Linked DNA regions of Homo sapiens: region 2 is reported to be linked to region 1. Evidence: microRNA targets listed by miRTarBase, many of them from high-throughput screens and not tested one by one. Region 1 holds a microRNA gene; the other region holds the end of a gene's coding sequence.
What was found. Region 1 holds the annotated microRNA hsa-miR-4687-5p (CAGCCCUCCUCCCGCACCCAAA, at 3,239-3,260, shown strand). A microRNA usually pairs through its seed, bases 2 to 8, with sites in the 3' UTR of a target mRNA and lowers its output. Matches are read on the target gene's strand: a 7mer-m8 pairs with bases 2 to 8, a 7mer-A1 pairs with bases 2 to 7 and ends in A, and an 8mer does both.

Region 1 (7,000 bases):
TTGTGAATAATGCTGTTATGAACATGGGTGTACAATTTTCAAGACCCTGCTTACATTTTCTGGGTGTACACCCACCATTGAAATTGGTGCATCATAGTAACTATTGTTAGTTCTTAGACACCATTTTAGCGTCACAGGAAATTCGACAGCTTCCAAGAGGTTTAAGGTCTTGGTGTAAATTGGTAACAGACCCTGGCTTCCTGCCTCCAAGATCTGTTTGTTGTACCAAATAGATAAGCACCCATAACCCCGAAGAAATCATATGGTGGTGAAAAGAAATGCTGTAGTCGAGTTTGAAGGAAATTGTGTTAAACATGCTTTACTTTGCTCATTTCTTTCATGTTCTCTTAGGCAAATGAGTGCACAGGCAGGAGAGCTGGCTTAGGTAGAAATGATCAACTGTCAGTCTGAGTGATTAATCTGGGCTGCAGACATGTTTTCTGTGGCCTATATAAGGTTTTATCCTTTTAAACGAATTGCTAATATTTTTTTAAAAAGGATATGTCATATGAAAGTCCAGATTTCCATCTTCTCTCTCTCTCTTTTTTTTTTTTTTTAATTGAGACAGGGTCTTGCTCTGTTGCCCAGGCTGGAGTGCAATGGTGTGATCATGGCTCACTGCAGCCTTGAGCTCCTGGATTTAAGCGATCATCCCCCCTCAGCCTGCTGAGTAGCTGGGACCACAGAAGCCAGATACCACTCATGGCTAATTAAAAAAATTTTTTTTGTAGAGATGGGGGTCCCACTGTGTTTCCCAGGCTGGTCTTGAACTCATGGGCTCAAGTAATCCTCCCACTTTGGCCTCCCAGAGTGCTGGGATTAGAGATATGAGTCACTGCACCCAGCCCCATCTTCTCTTAATGACACTCCAGCAATACTAGGCCCATCTTTCTGCCTGCTCTCCACAGTCCCCACCACTCCGTATTACTCCTACCTACTTTTCTTAATTGAATTACCTACCTGCCCATTTTGCCATTTGAATTTAAGACCCCTGGCTCAGAGAATAGGTCTAGGAGAACCTAGGTAGGGTTTCAACTGTTCTGGTCAATTTTCCAATATTCCGGTATTAGTTTTTAGTATCTGAGTGTTCAAGTGAATTAACTCATGTAATCCAGCTTTTACAGAGAACTTACTATGTGCAGGGTCTATGGCTGGGTCCTAGTGTCACAGAGATGAATAAGGCACAGTCTCTGACCTGAAAAGTGGCAATCACTATCTGTTGGGGGAGGGGCAGACAGATGTAATGGTCCAATTTTGGCCACAGACTGATTTTGAAGGGGTGGGCAGAGTAAAAGTTTCTAAGGAGACACATTGAGCTGTATCTGGAAGAGTAAGAGACCAGCTACATGAGGAACTGGGAGCAGGCGAGAGTGTTTCATGCAGAAGCAACAGCAGATACAAAGGCTGTGAGGTGGCTGAGTTTGACGTGGTTAGGAACTTAACGAAGGCTAGTGTGACAGGAGCTTAACAGAGCCGGGAGAGTGGTAGTAGGTTACATTAGCCATGTATTTTTATATCAACGGCCTAACCCTTAAGCCAGGCAGCTGTTGGGCAAATTCGTGTTCCCAGTCTTCAGGGGCCTTGCTCAGAACAGGTAGCTGGTTTAGCACTGTCAGTCAGAGGAGGGACTGGGCCTGATCCTTTCCCCTGCGTCTGGTGCCAAGGACAGGGTAGGGCACAGAGGTTTCAGTCAAGATCTGCTGACAGCACGCTTGAGAAGAGAACAGGAAGTGCAGGCTTTGTTGAAGGAGGCTCAGGCGTGGCTCTGTCTTCTTTGGCGCACTCATTCTCAAGTCGCTGACACCTCCTCCACCAGAGAGGTAGCTGGGAGAATGAGATGCAGGGAGGAAGCATTTACAGGCCCCACCGAAAAACCTTAAAGGGCTGAGAGCTTGAGGGCAGGTAGGAAAAAGGGCTGTGAGAGCTAAGGGAGGGCATCCCACTTAGCTTGGAGGGGAAGGGAGGCGGGGTCGGGAAAGCAGATGGCACCCTTTAGCCCAGACTCAAGGAATGTGTAGGGGAATTTTAGCTAGAGTGGTTTGGACATTTCATTTTGCTTTCTGGCATCATCATTTCCTCAGAAAACACTCGCAGGCCCCAGTGGCCCTCGTGGGCCTCCCCCGGGGCGGGTCTTAGCTTCACTCGGCAACCCTCTGCAAAAGAGCAGGCCCTCCCAGGAGCGCCGAGTCCTGTCTGCAGTTTGCTGATTTTCCCACCAGGGGCCGCTGCGCATGGGCGACGAAGCGCGCGGGTTCCCAAGCCGCAGAGAGGCGGAAGCCGATTGGTTGTCAGGCGAGGCGCGAGGGCGGAGCCTGGGAACTGGCCGGGAGTTGGGGGCTGGGAGCTCGCCCCCGGGCCGAGCCGGGTCAGGCTGTTGTCGCCTCAGGCAGCTCCTGGGAGGCTAACGTCGTGTCCTGGGCCTCTGTTTAGACAGCTCTAGAACTGAGGCGAGTGGAGCAGCACCAAGGCCCGGAGATCGGGGCAGGGCAGCTGCTGTCGCCGCCGCCGCAGGCCTGAGTTACCTGAGTAACTGCGGGTCAGGGACCCGCCCGACGGCCCGCGGTTGGCGCTGGAGACTCTCGGTGGGGAAAGGGAAGCTGGGACTTGATCCTTTGCGCGGGATCCTGGCAAAGACTAGCGCGGGCCGGGGGTCCGGGAGAGCCCGCTAGGGGCGGGGATTCCGGGGAGCCGTCTTCACCGGTTATTCCGGGATCCAGCTGGGCGCTGGGGCTGGCCCGGGCTTCGCTGGGGACCGGGCGGCGCGGGGCGGGCGCGGAGACGCACGCCCCCGCCCGCCCCGGGCCCGCCCCGCGCCGCCCGCCCGCCTGGAAGCCGCTGTCCTGGGCCTGGCCGGTGTGCGTCCGCCTGCTGGACCTGGGCACCGCCAGCCGCCTGGGCACGGGACTGGGCGGGGGCGCTGACCTCGGCCTAGGAGGCCCAGGATCCCGGAGACGCCCGCGCCCTCAGGACCCTGCGGGTCGCACGCCCTCCCCAGCTTCTGCTGCTCGCCGCTCTTCGGCAGGGCGAGGTCAGGTGCCCCCTTCTCGCCTCTCTTCTCTTCTCTTCTCTTCCTCCTCCACTTCTGTGCCCGCGGAGACTCCGGCCGCCCCCTTCCGCAGGGGTGTAGTAATCTGCGGAGCTGACAGCAGCCCCGCAGCCACCCTGCCCGAAGTCTCCGGAAGCGGCACGAGCTCAGGCCGCCGCAGCCCCGGCGGACCCACTGTTGGACCTGAGGAGCCAGCCCTCCTCCCGCACCCAAACTTGGAGCACTTGACCTTTGGCTGTTGGAGGGGGCAGGCTCGCGGGTGGCTGGACAGCTGCGGAGCCGCGAGGGCATCTTGCCTGGAGACCGTCGGCTGCACTCCCGGGCTCCTGGCTTTGCCTCTGGGATCCCGAGGTGTCCACATCAGACGCATGTTGACTGAGACCTAGAGTCATGGATGTATGCGTCCGTCTTGCCCTGTGGCTCCTCTGGGGACTCCTCCTGCACCAGGGCCAGAGCCTCAGCCATAGTCACAGTGAGAAGGCGACAGGAACCAGCTCGGGGGCCAACTCTGAGGAGTCCACTGCAGCAGGTAAGGCCTTGCTGCGGGCTGGACTGGGCTGGAGGCTTTGGCTCAGGACTGAGTGGCCCGAAGTGGGCAAGTTGAAATCTAGGTTTGTACATGTGAGGTTCATGGAGGATTCACACATGGCACTGCCTGTTCCAAGTAGTTCAAGAAGTTCTTTCTGGTCAGTAGTCATGGCAAATGCCTGTATCTTTCCTGAACAACTTTCCTCATCCCCCGCACTCAGGATTTTTTTTGTTGGCAGTAAGAAGAAGCCTTTGGGGCAACTTGACCTTTTAGATCAGCAAGGAAAGACCCCATCTTAGGCCTACTTGTCTGGAAGAATGGCCTGGTGAGATGATAAGTTCATTGCTCCTATTCGGTTTTAGTACTGAGCAGCATGGGGGAGGTTGGGGCCACTTATGTTGGAAAGGGAAAGTTAAGGCTGGGCCACCTCTGTTGCCTGAAAGCCTGGTGTTCAGGTGTGCCTATTCCAACAACCGTGGGAACCCTAGTCCCACCCTTCCCTTAGGTAGTCTTGTCTCTTTGCTGTGCGCATTTGAAATATCCAGGCGGTTTCTTAGATGGAATCCTATTTACAACTAGGGTGTTAAATGGCCTTTTCTTGACATAGACATGATATAATTCCTGGGACCACTTGTTGACTTATTCTGTTTCTTCTGACTGATGAGGGTGGGAATTCCATGCTACAGGTTTTTTTTTTTGTTTTTTTTTTTTTTTCCCTGAGTCTGCTTGCTAGGGAAACCATGCTACTTTTGATCTGTCATGGTTTTTCCTATGCAGTTGTGAAGGCTTATCAGGCAGCAGGAGCCCTGGTATACTTTTGCAGTAGAAAGGAACACTTTTATGTTTTGTTTTGTTTTTTTGAGACAGGGTCTTGATCTGTCGTCCAAGCTGGAATGCAGTAGTGTGATCACAGCTCACTACAGCCTCAAACTCCTGGGTTCAAGTGATCCTCCTGCCTCAGCCTCCCGGTAGCTGGGACTAAACACAAGAGCCACTGGGCCTGGCTAACTTTTTTTTTCTTTCTATTTTTAATTTTTTGAACAGACACTGTCTCTCTGTGTTGTGCAGGGATCCCTCCCAAAGTGCTGGGATTACAGGTGTGAGCCACTGTACCCATCAAGGAACTCTATTAAAATCCAGTCATTTTACATAAGGCTTACGAGATCAGTTCTCTTTTCCCATTTCTCTCACCCTTTGGCTGTGATCTGCCCAAAGCTGTGACCTGCAGTGTGGGGAGAGTTTATAGATGAGTTGTTTCTGAGCATAAGCAAGTTCAAATGAGGGAATGGCTCAGTGGGCACCTGCTGATACAAGTCAGAAAAGGAAATATAGGTCATGGTGGCTGGGGAGTTTCATGGATGGATCCAGAAGCTGGCTTTGGTGGTAGACCCTTTATTGGGCAATACCCTTTTAAGTTCCAGATGTTCCAAGAGGTCTGGTTTCCAAATGAGGCCAGGGTTGCCCATGTGTAAGTAGGATACCTGGCTGTTGCTTTCTAGATAGATCCTTTTTGCCTATTAATCCTGTCTCTCCATAGAGAGTCTCCTTGACCTTTGAGACCTGGCTGAAAGCTTGGTTCTTATTGGGCTATGAAGGGAAAGACTAGTGGGCAAATGTAGATTGAACTGTGAAGTAGACCTAATTATCATCTCTTCCTGTCCCTGTGACATTCCTATTTATAACTGATAATATGTCTTTTTTCACTCCAAAATATGAGTGCCTGACATAAGATGAATATTTTTTGGAGAGTGGGTGTTCTATATTTTAGACATAAGCTAAAGGGATGAAATTTTGAATGTAGACATTGGCTGGCTATTAGGAAGGTTTTTTTTTTTTTGTTTTTTGTTTTTCGCCTGAAGTAAAAGGCATTCTAGCCTTCCTCAGGACCACCCCATGACTTGAGCTTTTGGAGACAATTCTTCACACAACATATATTTCAGAGGCCTGGCTATGCTGATTATACCACTTAGGCCTACTCATGCTCAGTTTAGAAACTGGTTTCTGTTGTCACAATAATAGTGAATTCCAGGGAGGAAAGTCTCAGAGAGACCCTAGGTGCTGTGAATGCCTAAGGTTTGTGGAAACCTGGAGGTTCTAGCACTATTGTTGTGGTAGGTTTTCCCCTTGGGTCTACCTGGGGTTTTGTCTTTGACTCAGTCAGGGACTTGTTTTTGCAAAGAGGTGGTTCATATAGACTGGGATCTGCAAAAGAGTTTGGAGAGAAACTTTCTATGCAACTAGGAACTCTTGCATCCTTTCCAGCCTCTCTGTATCCCCAGAACACAGGAGGAGCTTTACTTGCTCTTAAAACTACTACTTTTAAAAATCAGATTCAACATACCCAGTCAATTTGTGTGTTCTCTGCAGTTTGTATTTTACAATTACATAGCTGTTTTTCCAACAGAGTCTCACAATAGCCCTGTTACAATGCAGGGCAAGTGGTATTGTCCCCATTTTTATGGGTGAAGAAACCTGGTCCTGTGCTTGGTCTTTCTTATAGGCAGGTCTTCTGATGCTTAAGTCTTGGATTTCTTCCATCTTCTCAGGTCCTGCCCTGTTAAAGGAGTGCTAGGCAGGGCTGGAGAATGTTGCTTTCCTTCTGACAATTAGGCAGGCCTTGGTGACTCTGTAGCTGAGAGCCAAGAAAAGGGCTGTACTTTTTTTCTGCTCTGGAGAGTCTTTTGCAGGGGCCCAGAGAATTTGATTTTTTCTCTTTTGGATGTATATACCCATCTGTCTCTTTTTAGTTAGTTAAAATATTTGATCCTAAGATTGATTTAGTTAAAATGCTTATGGCTTTAGCATGCATACAATAAACACTATGAAAGCCTGATCCTGCAGTGAAGGCAGGTGCTCTACAAGGAGGATCTCTCACTGGGCCGTGGAGAGGCCATTCCTGTCACCCTTTGGCTCTTTAATACCTGTACACCCAGCCATGCTAGGTCACTTTCTCAGTAAAGATCTGTGCCTGCCTGTGCTACTCTGGGGCTTGCGTTTCTGAAGCTGGCCTGATACGGATGCTTGGAACCGTCCTTAGACTCTAGAAAACAACAATGGTTTCTGTAGAATGTGCATGAGGGACCTCAGGTGGAGTCTGGAGTTATGGCTGCCAGTGTTGGAGGTATTGAGGGCCTCTAATCAGGAACTGTGGTTTAGTTCAGTGTAGCTAGGACAGGGCCTTGGAGGATAGGCATCTAGGCAGTGTGCAGAGTGCAGGCTGGCTTCTCAATCAACCTCTGATGGAGTGGCAGGCCAGAACCCTGCCTCCCTCCCCCAGCTAGTTGCTGCTGCCTCCAAGGCTATAAATGGCCTGGCCATCTTGGTAGCTATGCTAATTTTAGCTGAGGGTGGCTCCCGGAACTGGGCTGGGGCCAAGAGCAGGTAGGTGGGGCTTGGCTGAAGCTAATACTGGGGCCTGGGGAGAG
Region 2 (14,489 bases), not on the chromosome of region 1:
GAAGGTCCGCAACTTCTGGGCCTGGGTTGGGGGGAAGGTGCAGCGGGCAGACCCCTGGGATGCCAGGCTTCCTGTCTCTAAAGCCCCTGCCGGTGGTAAAAAGCTTTCTTCTCCTCCATTGCCTCCTTGTTGCTCCTTCCCAGCGAAAGAAATTACGGTATTCAGACCTGGACTTTGAGGTAAGGGCCATGTGTGTGCTGGGCGGTGGGACATCTGGCTGTGGTGTCTGTCCCTGGAGGGCTCACTCCTAAAAGTAGTCCAAGCTCTGTTGCAGAGCCTGACCCCAGGAGCCCAAGCCCGGGGGTTCCGTGGGATCTTCCCATGATTCCCTCCCTGCCCAAGCCCATAGCACCAACGTGAAGAGAGAACTAGGTCTTGTCCCAGAGGGGCTGGCAGCAGGGAGGGATGTGGGGGGCTTGGGGTGCTGAGTGCCCTGGGTAGGGGGGATCATGGTGCTGCCCCGGGGAGCGACCCTCTGATGCCCTGTGGCCCCTAGAAGGTGATGCACACCCGGAAACGGCATTCAGAACTCTACCACGAGCTCAACCAGAAGTTCCACACTTTCGACCGCTACCGCAGCCAGTCCACGGCCAAGGTGAGGGCTCCTCCCGTGGCTGCCCCTGCCCTGAAGCTCAGGGCCTGACCTGGTGCAGTGGCCCCTGGGGTTGGAGCCTGACCGGTGGCCCCCGTTGCAGAGGGAGAAGCGGTGGAGTGTGTCCTCGGGTGGGGCAGCCGAGCGGAGCGTGTGCACCGTGAGTCCCCCCGGGCTGGGTGGGGTGAGGTGGGCCTGAGGGACCCGTGCCCTCCCTGCCCTCCTGCCCCTCCCAGGCAACCCCAGCCTGTCTCACCAAGGGCCTCCCCCACGGCATGGGCAACAGTCTGGGGCCGCCTGGGGGTGGGGAAGGTGCTGCAGATGGCGAACAGGGGTGGAGGTCCTCCAGGATTGGGAGGGAGAGTGGTCAGCAGGAGACATGTCCTGGGGGCCACTGAGAACAGGGGTCAGGAGCCCCACCCTGGAACCAGGCAGGTCTGTATTTGAATTCTGCTTGACACCTGATTGCTCCATAACTTTGGGCATTACCAGCCCTCTCTGGGACTCCTCAGTTTGATCGTCTGTACAATGGGTAAGGATATTGGCCCATCTCCACGGCCCCTCCCGCTCCCTCCACAGGATAAGCCCAGCCCTGGGGAGCGCCCCAGCTTGTCCCAACATCGGCGCCATCAGAGCTGGAGCACCTTCAAATCTATGACACTGGGCTCGCTGCCCCCCAAGCCCCGAGAACGGCTGACTCTGCACCGGGCAGCAGCCTGGGAGCCCACAGAACCACCGGATGGTGACTTCCAGACAGAGGTGTGAGTGCCACGCTGGACTGCCCACTGCATATAAATATATATATCTCTCTATTTTCACACTCCACTTTGGAACTACCCAGGAGCCAGCGCCCTCTCCCCTCTCCCGAGGGCTGGGCAGGGAGGCGCCGTGGACTCAGCCAGGCTGGGGGAGCCGGACATGGCTTGGCCTGGGGTCCCAGGGCCCTTCCTTGTTTCTCAGAGGCCCCTCAGCCACTGGAACCCCATCTTCAGCCCAGCCTGTCCGTCCCTGTCCCGGGCTGGGGAGGGGGGAGGGGAACTTTGTTGGGAATAAACTTCACTCTGTGGATTTTGCTGCTGAGCTGTTTGCTTCCCTCAGGTAAAGGCCCAGCTCTGGGACCCCGACTTTGTTTCTGTCTCCTGGGTTGAACTCACTTGATCTCATCAGATGATGTGATGGGGTCAGTCCAGCCCTGCCTGGGAGGGGGCGGCCTAGGCTCTGACCCCATCTTTGTCCCTGACTCTCTGGGTGATTCATCCTTTCCCCGATCTGGGCTGTGGGAAGCAGATTGGGAGTGTGGGAGGGGACCTCTTATGGCTGGCTTTTCCTGGTGGCTGTGATGGTCGTGGCTGCCATTCACTGGGGCACAGAGGCCAGACTTCCTGGGCTAGAGCCAAGACAGAGCTTAGTGACCTTGGTTTCACATCTGTGAAATGGGGATGGTAACAGTGCCCACCTCACAGGGTTGTTACAGGGATGAAACAAATTCCTATTTGTAAAGTGTTCAGCAAATACCTGGGACAGGATAAGCTCTTGAAGGGTTAGCTGTGACCATGTGGCACCAGTCTCATGCAGTGCTCTAAGCTAGGAGCTTCACACACATATCCCCTGGCCCCTCACAACAACCCTGTTGGAAGGTTTTAGGTTGCCCATTTTGTGGATAGGAAAATGAGGCCAGAGATGGGCAGTGCCCGGCTCAAGGCCACAGTCAGAGGCAGAGCTGGGACTTCAAACCCACGCTTGATGGAGGTGGGGCTTCAGCTCAGCTTCCTGGAACTTGACCATGGCTGCAGGGGAGCCGCAGATGCTGGGTTGTGGTGGAGATGCAGGTGTTGGACCGGGCCAGGGCTGGGGTGGGGTGTGGGAGCCAGGCTGGCTTGGTGCCAGGGGCTGGAGGCTTGTACTGAGTTGCATTCATTACATGCCTGAGTGAGCGGATCCTTGCTCAGTTTTCAGGCCCCCAGAAAGAGGGGGCACAGGATTACATCTGGAAACATATTCTGGAGTCAGGCAGCAGCTGGAGCAGAGGCACGGTTAGCAGGGTCACAGGTCCTTCTTGCCTGGTCATTTAGCAACATGGGCACCTCTGGGCCCCTTCCCAGGGACTCGGAGACACAGACAGGTCCCTGGAGAGCTGAGGGAGGGTTAGGTGCTGCAGCAGCCTGGGTGGGAGTGACAGAAGTGACTGGCTGCTGGGGTAGGGGGTATCACAGATAATGGCCTGCCCAGGGGTGCTGGAGGAGGGGCGGAGGCCTCTTCAGAGTTTTGCAGGCCTTGATGGCACAGGCTTGCTCTGGTCTCATTCCAATCCTGCCTGCTGTGAGACCTGGTCAGAGGAGCCGTGCGGGCAGAGTCCACTCAGGACTGTGCTTCTAGACCCTTGGAGCTCCTGCGACTCACTCCTCCGCCTCCCTCCCTTCGGGCAGCCCCAGCACTTAAGTGTACACAGAGTTCACTCAAGCACTACCTCATTTGATTCTTCAAGGTAGGTATTGTGACTGCCCCATTTTGGAGATGAGTAAATCGAGGCTTGGAGAGGGGACATGACTTTCCCAAGCTCCCACAGCTCAGCTTGTGACTGGGACTTGTGGCTGGGAGTGGCAGAATCCGATACCAGCCAGCTTAGGCACCTGGGAGCTTTGTTCACCCAGGAGCGCGCTGCCGCAAGGACAGCAGTGGGCAAGTGCGGCTGGCCTTCGTGATGGGACCCGGGATCAGGAGTGCCACCGCATGTTTCATCCTCTCCTGGCATTCTCTCGAATGTGTGTCGGCTTCATTCTTTAAGGCCTCTTCCCCCTGGGCCTGCCAGGCTTCCTCCTCCCAGCTCGATCACTCAGCATTGCCCCTAGAGGGGAAGAAACTTTCTCTCTTGAATTCCAATTAGAAAACCCCCAAGGAAGGAAGAGCTCTGGCTGGCCCCAGGAAGGAGGCTGGGGCACTGTGATTGGCAGTCCCATCAGGAACCATGGGGGAGAGGGAGAGGGAGGAGAGGGAGCAGGTCTCTGAGAAAGGGGGGCCTGTTCCTAAAAGGGGGTTTGCACAAACAAAGCCCGACCATGTACCAGCAGATCCTACTCCACATTCCTTCCTCTGACCATCACCTAAAGGCCCTCTTAATGCCTTGTCCTGTGCTCGCACCTCCCTCCTTCCTGGTCTTAGGCTCCGCTGGTCACCACCTCTGGGGCCCTCTGGGGCTGAGGTGTGATGTGCACGTCCCTGCCCTCCTGTCCATTCTTGCTTTGCATCTGGTTGAAGAGGAAGTTTAGTATTTACCTTGTTGATTCTGCTCAAACACAAACCACAGCTACCTGCAGAGGCCTCTGCTGGCTTTGAGACCAGCCACTTAGCTTTCCTGGGGTGGGGGCTTTGTCCCTCCCTTGCCCTCAGTCCCTGCTCCCCCAGGCACTGACTTGCTGCGTGACCTTGGACAGGCCACTGGACCCTGTCTGACATGGGTTTCCCTATCTGTAAAATGAGTTGGCTCGATCTCCCTTCCATTTGAGCTAATATCTAACAACCTGTCATTTCTTTCCTGGACTCAAATTTCTCACATCATTGCCCTCATTTTCTCTGCCTCCAGTCTCCAGCCCTTCATCCACATGGCCCAAGTGATCTTTCCAAAATGCAGATCTGGCCAGGCCACTGCTCAGATGCCTTCTGTGGATCCTGGAATTAGCCTAGAGTTCAAGGCCCTTGGTGATGTGGCCCTTGCCTCCCTCCTCTGGCCCATCTCTCTGACCTCCATGCCTGTGCATGCACCACTCCTTCTGCCTGAAACTCCCTCCTCCTCACAGAGGGGAAACTCTCCTTCAGCCTTCCAGACCCAGCCCAAGTAGCCCCCTGTGTGATGCTGTCCCTGAACTCCCTGGCCCAGCAGTCAGCACTCGCTGGGCCCCCACAGGCCTTGGCATGCACTGTCACTACTGCACTGATCACACAGAACTGCTGTCATCTGTGTTGGCCTTGCTGTGGTTTGTGCACTCAGAGGCCCACATGAAGCAGGCATCAGTGAATCTTTAGCGGGTGAAGGGTGGAATACACAAATCTCCCTGAACATTGATTTCCTCATCTGCAAAATTGGGATAATGACAACTCCTACCCAGTCTTCCTCACTGGATATCCGGAGCATGACTTAAGATGATTCATGGGAAGCATTTTATAGGTGTTAATCTACTCCTCCCACAGTTATTCCTTCCTCAACCCCAAGTGGGAAGCCAGCCCTGGCTGCTGTCCAGGGTGCTGAAAGGGACTTGTCTTCACCCAAAGGATGAGGAGACAAGACTGAGAGGCCCGCCCGCACAAGCTCAGCTGCAGCCTTTTCTTGCTTTCCAGACTGGCAGGGTCAAGGATGAGCAGACCATCCCTACCTTCATGAGAACAGACCCTGGGAGATGTCTAATAAAAATACAATGTAAACGACATATGTAATTTAGAATTTTCTAGTAACCATTCTTTAAAAGTTTGAAAAGGTGAAATTCATTTTAATAATATATCTCATTCAATATATTAAAAAACGATCATTTCAACATATAATCAATATAAAAAATGACTGAGATATTTAACATTCTTTTTTTATACGGAGTCTTGGAAATCTCGTGTGTGTTTTATACATACAGTGCTACAGTGCATCTCAAGTCAGTCTCACCACCTTCTGACTGCTCAGTACTCCCGTGAGGCTACCATGTCGGACAGCACAGCTCTAGGCAGAACAAAGGCAGTGACCTTGAGCAAGTGAACTCAGTGCCCTCTGTGAAAAGGAGGTACTTCCGCACAGCCTGCCTCATGGGGCCATGGAGAGGGCTTGAGGAGGTGATGGAGGGAAAGTTGCCAGCACAGTGCCCGCACAAGGGAGGTCCAAAGCCAGGGTTCCTGGGCTCCACATATCCTGGGGATACTGGTGGGTAGGGAGGAGGTGTTGGGGAAGTAGGGGAAGGTCCTGAGGAGACCTGTGGACTGGTATCAGGCCTCCCTCAGCAGCACTAGGGGAAGGGGTCACCCTTACCCTCACCCTTACCCTTACCCCTGCAGCCCTAGACTCTGGGAGAAGGGAAGCAAGTTGAGGCTAGACTGGAACAGACACGTTAAAACTTAATTGGGCTTAAATCACTTCCATTAGGCACCAATTAAAAGGAAATTAGGTGGCCTGAGGGAGGACCTGGGTGCGGGATGCTGCTGACTTCTGCTTCTCAGGACTCATTTCCCTTCAGGCTTCTTCATGCCCACCCTGGCACCTCATGGGGTCCCCCAGTTGGGGCTTTTCTAATCCAGTCCCCAGTACCCATCATATTCCTCCCTCCACTCCTCCAAGGCCACTGACTCTGGGAAGACTTCCACCCTCTCAGGCCCTCAAAACACATGCTAAGTGTCTAAGGCAGAGGAGACTCCACTGAGGGTTTTGGCCTTTAAGGAGAGTGGGAAGCTAAGGAAGAGTGTTGAGCAGAGTACTGGCATGATCAGATTTCTATATCAACACGATTTCTCTTGAGTGGATGGAAAATGGATTGGTGGGGGCAGGGACACTGAAGAGTGAGGGTGGAGAGAGAGACCAGCAAGGAGATGATCTGCATGAAGGAGACTTTAGAGGGTGCTATGGAGGAGGAATGGAGTTTCTATATATGTAGTGGGTAGAATTGTCAGCACTCAGCTCCTGGTGTGGATTGGGTATCAGAGAGGAGCCAAGGATGACACCTGGGCTTCTGTCTTACACACCTGGATGGATGACCGTGTCATTGGCATAGAGGTACAGGAAGAGGACCAGCTTTGGGGGAGACAGTCATTAATTTGGCCTTGGGCATTGTCTTAGTCCATTTTGTGCTGCTATAACAATACCTGAGACTGGGTCATTTATAAAGAACAGAGATTCATTCATTGCAGTTCTGGAGGCTGGGAAGTCCAAGGTTGTGGGGCTGTCATCTGGCAAGGTCTTTTTTGCTGCATCATCTTATGGCAGAAGGCAGAAGGGTGAGAGAGAGAGCAAGAGATTGAATTCAAAGACTCAAGCTCTTTTATAATCAGTGTTAATCCATTCATGAGGGCGGTGCCCTCATGATCTAAACACACACCCCCCATTGACCCCATCTCCCAACACTGTTGCACTGGGGATTAAGTTTCCAACACATGCTTTTTGGGGGACACATTCAAACCATAGCAGGCATGTCAACTTTGAGATGGTCAAGGGGAGATGTCAAGTGGAAAGTAGGTAGTTGAACACACAGGGCTGGAACTCAGAATGAGGGGCTGGGCTGGAGTCATTACTATGGGAGGAACCAGCACTGAGGTGGGTTGTAGAGTAGGGTGGGAGGTGAATAAATCAAGGGACTAGAGACAGTTCTTAAAGTGGAGCTTTGAAAAGAGGGAGACTCCCTTTGTTCAGGACAGGTGAAAAAAAAGAGAAAAGAGGGAGAGAAAGCTCAGGGCTTACTGTAGTCTCTGAAGGTGAGTTAGCTGGAGAGGATGATGGGAGATTTCCATGAACAGAGAGGCTGTCCCTACCTCCTCTCCAAGATCCTACATAATGATCAGAAATAACCAGCCCTACCGCCTTGGGAGGCCGGGTCCTGAGACCCAGTAATGGTTATCATCACAGAGATTGATTCTGCTCATTTGTTGCACTTCAGGTTAGCCACAGTTCCTGGAGGTGGGAATGGGGTTGGGGGGACACTCAACAAGGCCTGGACTCCAAGACCTTCGGGACGGATGGGACTCTGGACTCCATGGGGAAGGTGGAGAAGCAGGCACGGTGCTCCGGGCTCCCTGAAGCCCTCACTTCTACTCCTCCTGAGCAGGTGGAAGCAAAGGTGAGCCCCTCCTCTCCAGGCCTCAGCTTCCCTATGGACCTGCTCCAGGCTGTTATGTGCCTATCCCCTGTGGTGGCATGGCAAAGCCTCAGCCATCAATCCAAGTGTCCCTAGAGTCAACCAAGAAAGTCAATATTTAATTTGGGCACCATGTTAATGCCATCGATCGCCAGCTCCCTCCTCCTTCCTCAGGCTCATTTGTCACTTCCCACTCACTGGGGGTGGGGTGGGGTGCAGCCTAGTAGAGGCAGAGCTCAGCCTGGACTTGGCCTGGGAAAACTGGCCTGCATGTGGAGGTGCTCCCCTCAACCACCCAGCTTCCAATCCCCTGAGAATCACTGAGCTGCTTTGTCTGAGTTTCCTAAGTGCCATCCCTGGGGAGGTCAGTGAAGTGGGGAGGGGAGGTCAACTTTTCTCCCAGGCCCCCACATTGAGTCTAATTCCCTTCTGGGGCCATACATAGAGCAGGTGTGGTTGGGGGTTGACTGAGTGAAGGAGGGCTAGCACCTGTGACATAGGCCACTGGGAGAGAAGTGAGAGCAAATTTGAGACTCGGCTTCTGGATCCTTCCTGGGTGCCCAGTTCTGTGTCTGTGTGATGCTGTGGAAGTCACATGGGGGACCTGAGATGTGGTCCATCTCTAGGACCCAGAGAGGAGGCTGAGGGAGCATTGAGCTTAGAGGTTTAGGGCTCAGCTGGGTAGCGAAAGAGGGGCTGGGGTAAGGGCAGACCCCATTTAAAGGCTTGGCTGGGTCCAACTTCCAGTTTGTTCTCATCAGTTCTGTGGATCCAGATAGGGGCCCCTCAGCATTCTTCCCCAGCCCGGCTCACCCAGGGAGGGAATGCCTCCAGTCTGCTTCAGGGGCCAGGCTTGGGTCCCAACTGCAACTCCATCTCCAACTTGCTGAGTGACCTTGGACAAGTTAAGTAACCTCTCTGAGCCTTAGATACCTCCTCTGAGAGACCTCTTGGACCTTGGTCACTTGGTACTGTTTTTAGAGGGTCAGGGATGGGCAGGAGCAAGCTTGATGGTCCAAGGAGGGTTATTTCCCAGAGTTCTCACAATGAGCAGCTCCCAAAACCTGCTGACAGTGCTACTGCCTTCTTCCTACCTGTAGGGCTGCTTGCTGTCAATTAGGCCTGGGCCACAACGGCACCCTTGGTCCTCCTCGTTATCCAGAGTGCAGAAGCCAAGACCATGTCATTGAGGGGATGGTTGGGCAAGCCCTGCCATCTAGCACTGGGTGATCAATGGGCGGACTGAGTTCAGTTTAGGATGCCAGCAAGACAGTAACAACACGTGCACACACAGATAAGCAGAAAGAAATTCTGAGGCCAGGTGCGGTGGCTCATGCCTGTAATCCCAGCATGTTGGGAGGCCGAGGCGGTCGGATCACCTGAGGTCAGGAGTTTGAGACCAGCCTGGCCAATATGGTGAAACCCCGTCTCTACTAAAAATACAAAAATTAGCTGGGTGTGGTGGCGGGTGCCTGTAATCCCAGCTACTTGGGAGGCTGAGGCAGAAGAATCGCTTGAACCCAGGAGGCGGAGATCACGTCATTGCACTCTAGCCTGGGCAATAAGAGCAAAACTCCATCTCAAAAAAACAAACCAAAAAAAAAAAAAAAAAAGAAGAAGAAGAAGTTCTGCTTCCATGAACTAATCCAGAATTTTGCAATTGAAAATCCAAAAGGAAGTGGTTTTCATTCCAGCATGTGCATAAAGAAGTATGCTTCATGGATTAGTATTATTTCTATTGTGAATGATGTATGGGAGTGCCAGACTCTTCCCAATGGATGGCATGTAAATGTCTTAATCTGGCCCTGTTGACCTACTCTGAGCCATTGAATCAAGCCTTGAGCCAGGAGAACTTGATTGGTCATTTATTTATCAGTAAATGGTGTCTGATGTCAACCCCATGCTGGGCCTTGGGATGGGCACTGACAACGTAAAGATGAGGAAGGCATAGTCTCTAAGAAGGCTCCCAAGATGGAGGAGCTGGGGGAAGGGATGGATACTGTTTCCAGGGGCTTCCCATTGCTCTTTGACTAAAACAAAGGCTCTCACTGTGGCACAGGAGGCTCGGCATGCTCTGGTCCCTGCCCATTGCTCTGTCCAAATGTCCTGCCACTTGCTGTCACTGTCTGAGCAGCTCCATGGCCTCCTCTCTGCTCCTCAAACACATTTCATGGATTCTCCCTTCCCAGGGCCTTTGTGTTTGCTGTGCCCTCAATTTGAAAGTCTCTTCCCTGGCTGTCTGCTGTGCTGGCTCTTGTCTTTTGATGAGATGCCACCTCCTCAGAAATGCCTTCCTTGACTACCCCTTTCTCCCACCAAGTCATTTTTTAAAAATCACATCACCTAATCCTTTCCACAGTATCATTTCTCCTGATCTGAGTTTATATCACTTGTTTCCTATTTATTGTCTGTCTCCCCCACTGGACTATGAGCCCCTGAGGGCAGAACAGGGTCATACATTCATACTGTTGCTGGGACAGGATAGGAACTGCATAGATATTGCTGAATGAATGAATGAGGAGACATTGGGAGGGGGCTGTCCAGGAAGCAATTAGAGCTGAAGGTCTAGTTCTCAGTGCCCTGCCGCAGGCAGACTGTCTGTGTCTGTGCCTGTGGTGGGGTGGGGAGGGCTTTGCCTGTGCAGGCCTGGGAAGGGGAGAGCCCCATAGGACACCAGCCTCAGGGCATGCATATTGCAGAAGGCTCCTTCCTTGAATATTAACTCACTGCCAGACTGGCATCCCTGACTGCTGCTGAATTTTTCACTGTCAGGGCCAGTGGTTGATGGGGGATGGGGGTTGGGAGGACAGCACATCCACGTCCAGAGGGCCACATGCACTTTTGTGTGACATTGTCACGTGCAGCTGTCTGGGCAAGGGCTTGCTCCCAGGTGGCCATGCATGGATGCTATGGGCAGCTCTGTGTCTGAGCATGTTCTGCCCTTAGCTGGCCTGCCGTGCACACAGGTGAGTTGTGTTTTACATGCTCTCATTTCCAGGCTCAACTGAGGGAAGAAAGGGCCCTTAGAGAACATTCAGTTCCACTCCTCCCGTTGTGCAGAAAGGAAATCTGAGGCTCAGAAGGGAGAGGTTGCTCGAGGTCACACCATGAGTCCTTGGAGGATCAAGGCTAAAGCCCAGTGAACAGTGAGCATTTATTGAGAGCCTGTGGTGTACCTGGCACCATGTTGGGCATGGGGAACTCACTCTACTAGAGAAGCCCACAGTCCAGGAAACCAGGCTTGGGGAAGAAGGAGACAGACATGGGCCTGAGCATTAGGCTGCAGAGCAGGAGAAGTTTCCTCTGCCTTCAGAAGAGGGTGTCAGGGAAGACAAGGAAACACTTGCACTGAGCTCTGAAGACTAATTGAAAGCTCAGCAGGCAGAGAAAGGGGAAAGGGCACTCCAGGCAGAGGGTGCCTCATAAGCAAAGGCACGAGGCATGAAACAACTTGGCAAGTTTGGGGAATTGCAAATAGTGCAGTTCAGCTGGAGAGGATGGGCTGCGGATACGGGGCGGTGAGATCACAGTGGCTTTGTGGGATATCATCGGGGTTTGGATTTTATTCTGAGGGCCAGAGGGGAACCACGGAAGCAGACTTGGGTTTTAGAAGGATTTCTGTAGCTACGGAGGAAAAGCGAATTCAACCGATACATTTTGAGCAGTCAATATATGCCAGGTACCACGCTGGGTGCTGAGGATACAATTCTGAATGAGGCACATACAGTCTCAGCTCTGCAGCGTATTAAGAGACACACAGACAGGTGTAGTAGGGAGGAAGCTTGGCACACAAACAAGAAATACCCTGTTTCTGTATTCACTTTAAACCAACTCCAGTCTGACTCACTCTAAACGCTTTCCTATGAGTTGGCAAAAAATTTAATCTCAACCATCACTGAAGGCTCCCTCCCACCTTTCCCACTGGCGAGTGCAAGGAGCTGCTGGCCCTCCCTGCACATGGGCACAGAAGAGGTGCCTCCTGTCTTCAGTCTACATTGGTCACACAGAGATGTCCATTGTCCTAGTAGTCCATATGGTCCCTTGAGGCTCAGTGACTAAGCTGTTCCCCTGCTACTTTGGAGCACTGAAGCTGGTTCCCAAGTGTTTGCACTCCAGCCACCCCAGGTGCGTTACCACACATCCCCACAGCTCCTGTCACCTGTCAAGGGAGCTATCAGCTGTCAAGGGAGCTAGACACAGGTCCCTACCACCCAAAGGACCCCCAGCTTCTGCACCCTCTGCAGCTAGCTTCTGCCTCTCAATTCTCTGTCCTCTTCTCCCCATCCCTTGGGAACACATGGCACGCCTGCTTCCAGAAGTTTAGCTCTTTCCAAACTCAGGACAAGCCATCAGACTTCAAGCAGCTTTTTGCGTTTGGCCCTGCACAGTTCCCTGAGGCTAGAAAAATCAAAGGGCTTGGCTACCAGCTTGCAAGTGGGAGGGGAAACTACAGGAGAACAAAGCAATTAATATCTCAATCAATTGTCCTGCCACGGGAGTGAATAAGTCATTAGAGACCCAGGCAGTGACTGCTCTGAGAGAGGCAGGCACATACTGGGGGTGGTGGGAGGTCAGACAAGGGGCACCTAACTAAGACCTGGGGTTCAGGAAAGGCCTCCCAAGAAGTGGAGTCTCTGCCAGACTAAGCCCTGAAGACAGCAAGGATGAGGCCAGGGAGGGCGTTCCTGGAAAAGGGATGAGGAGCTGACAGTTCTCCTGTATGGGTGGAACACAGAAAGCCCCAGAGAGGGACTGGGGCTGAGGGAGGTGGAGCTGGATGGTGAAGAGCTCAAGTCCCAAGTCAAGGTTTGGAGTCTATTTGGACCATAAGATGCTATTGAATGATTCTAATCAAGAAAGTGACACAACCAGATTCCTGTTTAGAAACACCGCATGGCGGCTGGGCGCAGTGGCTCACGCCTGTAATCCCAGCACTTTGGGAGGCCGAGGCGGGTGGATCATGAGGTCAGGAGATTGAGACCATCCTGGCTAACACGGTGAAACCCCGTCTCTACTAAATGTACAAAAAATTAGCCGGGTGTGGTGGCGGGCGCCTGTAGTCCCAGCTACTCGGAAGGCTGAGGCAGGAGAATGGCGTGAGCCCGGGAGGCGGAGCTTGCAGTGAGCCGAGATCGCGCCACAGCACTCCTGCCTGGGCCACAGAGCAAGACTCTGCCTCAAAAAAAAAAGAAAAGAAAAAAAGAAACACCACATGGCTATGAAAAATGGATGGGGGAGAGGGTAAAACTGGTGGCAGGAAGAGCAGTTGTCAGGTGTTCCAGGGACTGGAACCGGCAGAGGCAGCTCCCAGGGATAACTGCAAGGAAGAAGGGAAGGGGATAGGACCTGGAGATGGGGGGAAGAAGGGAAGATAGATGTTAGAATGACTCCCCTTTCTATCTGGGGCGAATCCCCGAGATGGAGCGGACTGGGCAGGATGGTGGTGGGTAGGCGCCAGTGGGACCTCCAAGGAGAAAAAGGAGCCCAGGCGCGGTGGAACCCTTTCCGCACCCCACCTCTGCACTCCGCGATTCCCAAGCTTCCCGCTAGGTGGAGGGCTGGTGCCCTGGAGACCGGGCTCCGCCTCCCATCCTCCGCCCCTCATCCCAGAAGGATGGACCTTGACTTGGGCCTCCCCAAACCCCGCGTCCCTGTACTCGCCACCAGAGCTCATGTGTCTTGAGCCATCAGCTGCCCCCACTCCAGGGCTCCGTGGCAGAGGCATCGTCCTAGACACTTCTGCCCAGGCGCCTCCCTGGGCCTTTCTGTGCCCACGTATACAGGGCTGTTTCTATGCTCGGGGCGGCCTCGGCCACTCCAGCCTCGCAGACTGCCGGGTCCCCGCAGCTACGTCCTGCAGCCTGGAGGCTTCCCGTTCGCGGCGCCAGGAACGTTCCCTCACCCGCCACCCTCGACGCCCTTCTATTCCCTGACCCCACGCGGGAGGAGGGCTCCATGCCTCTCAGAGGCAGGCTACCCCTCATCTAGGCCTCTCTGGACCTTGGGACAGGTTCTAAGGTTGGCCAGGGCTGGGCGGAGCCAGATAGGAGGCAGGGCCTAGGGCGGAGTCAGGGAAGGCACCCGGCCATGAGTGTGGTCCAAAGGCAGACCAGTGGCGTGGCCAGAGTGGGCTGGAGGCGTGGCTGTCGGCGGGGTGGGGTCGGGATCCCCAGAACCTGGCAGCTTCCTCTCCTCTCCCACCCTAGCCAGTTCTGTCGCCCAAAGCCCCGCCCGCCCTGGCCCCTGGTCCAATGGGCAGACACAGCGACCATCGGGAGGCTCCTGGTCCCACTTAACAGAGGTCGTTATTTGGGAGGCCGCGCCCAGTTCTCTGGAACTGCCAGGCCTTGTGGGGAAGGGGGGCGCATTCTCTGGGCCTGCGCCGCACACCCTGACACCCACCCTCCATGTGCTTCCACCCTTTTCCAAGTAGACAGCTGGAGGGCCTGGGGCTTGAGCCCCGAGCTGGAGGAGCTGGTCAGGCGCCTGCGCCCCCCACGAGGCCCCCCTTCCCTTCAGTCTGCGCTCAGGCCCAGAGCCGGCTCTAAAAATAGACCGGGGCGCAGGAACGTGCCCACCCAGGAGCGGGTCAAGGAGGCCTGAGTCACCGTGTCGGGAGAGCCTTCTTCTTCTCCTCCCCGCCCCCCCACCACCTCCCACCTCGGGGGCTGAGGACGCCTCGATGGCCCGGCATCACTCCGGCTCTGCTGGCCCGACTCTGCGCCCTTGGCAGGGCGGTGCCGGCGGGGCAAGCGGTAGCAGCCACAGCCGGGAAGGATTAGGAGTTCCTGGGCCTGATTTATTTGGTTGTTTTCGTGCGTCTGGCGGCGGCGCCCCCGCCTGGCAGGACAGTCACGTCTGCATTGCTCTTCTCTCCCACCCAAGCTCATGGGTCTGTCCTAGACTTCAGGGTGGGGACCTGGGCTCGCAGCAACACAAAGTCCCGACCTGGATATTAGCGGTTCTGGAGCAAACACTGCTATTCCATAGATGAGAAAACCGAGTTCCAAAGAGAGGAAGAGGCCCATGGCACAGTAGAGTGCCCTGTGACAGCTCTGGATTTCACTCCACTTCCTAGGGCC

Region 2: miRTarBase lists ADGRB2 as a target of hsa-miR-4687-5p. Seed matches in the 3' UTR shown: 7mer-m8 at 1,459-1,465.

Annotation. Positions count from the first base shown.
Region 1 is chr11:3,852,835-3,859,834 of GRCh38, forward strand. It overlaps MIR4687 (microRNA 4687), which reads left to right and starts at 3,228; the gene lies at 3,228-3,307. It overlaps STIM1 (stromal interaction molecule 1), which reads left to right and starts at 2,830. Exons shown (of 13, transcript NM_001382567.1): 1 at 2,830-3,575. The coding sequence starts at 3,437. It overlaps STIM1-AS1 (STIM1 antisense RNA 1), which reads right to left and starts at 2,744. Exons shown (of 2, transcript NR_183662.1): 1 at 2,523-2,744; 2 at 1,489-1,824. RefSeq lists enhancers at 1,806-1,875, 2,085-3,030, 3,246-3,455, 3,606-3,685, 3,696-3,745 and 2 more and silencers at 2,216-2,265, 2,746-2,805, 2,866-3,025, 6,862-7,000.
Region 2 is chr1:31,714,288-31,728,776 of GRCh38, reverse strand. It overlaps ADGRB2 (adhesion G protein-coupled receptor B2), which reads left to right. Exons shown (of 33, transcript NM_001364857.2): 30 at 144-179; 31 at 497-595; 32 at 696-752; 33 at 1,172-1,660. The coding sequence ends at 1,357. Among named protein-coding and RNA genes, the nearest start is that of COL16A1, 18 kb to the right of the region's middle. RefSeq lists a silencer at 4,722-4,922 and enhancers at 4,468-4,969, 12,262-12,857, 12,926-13,035, 12,858-13,455, 13,315-13,609.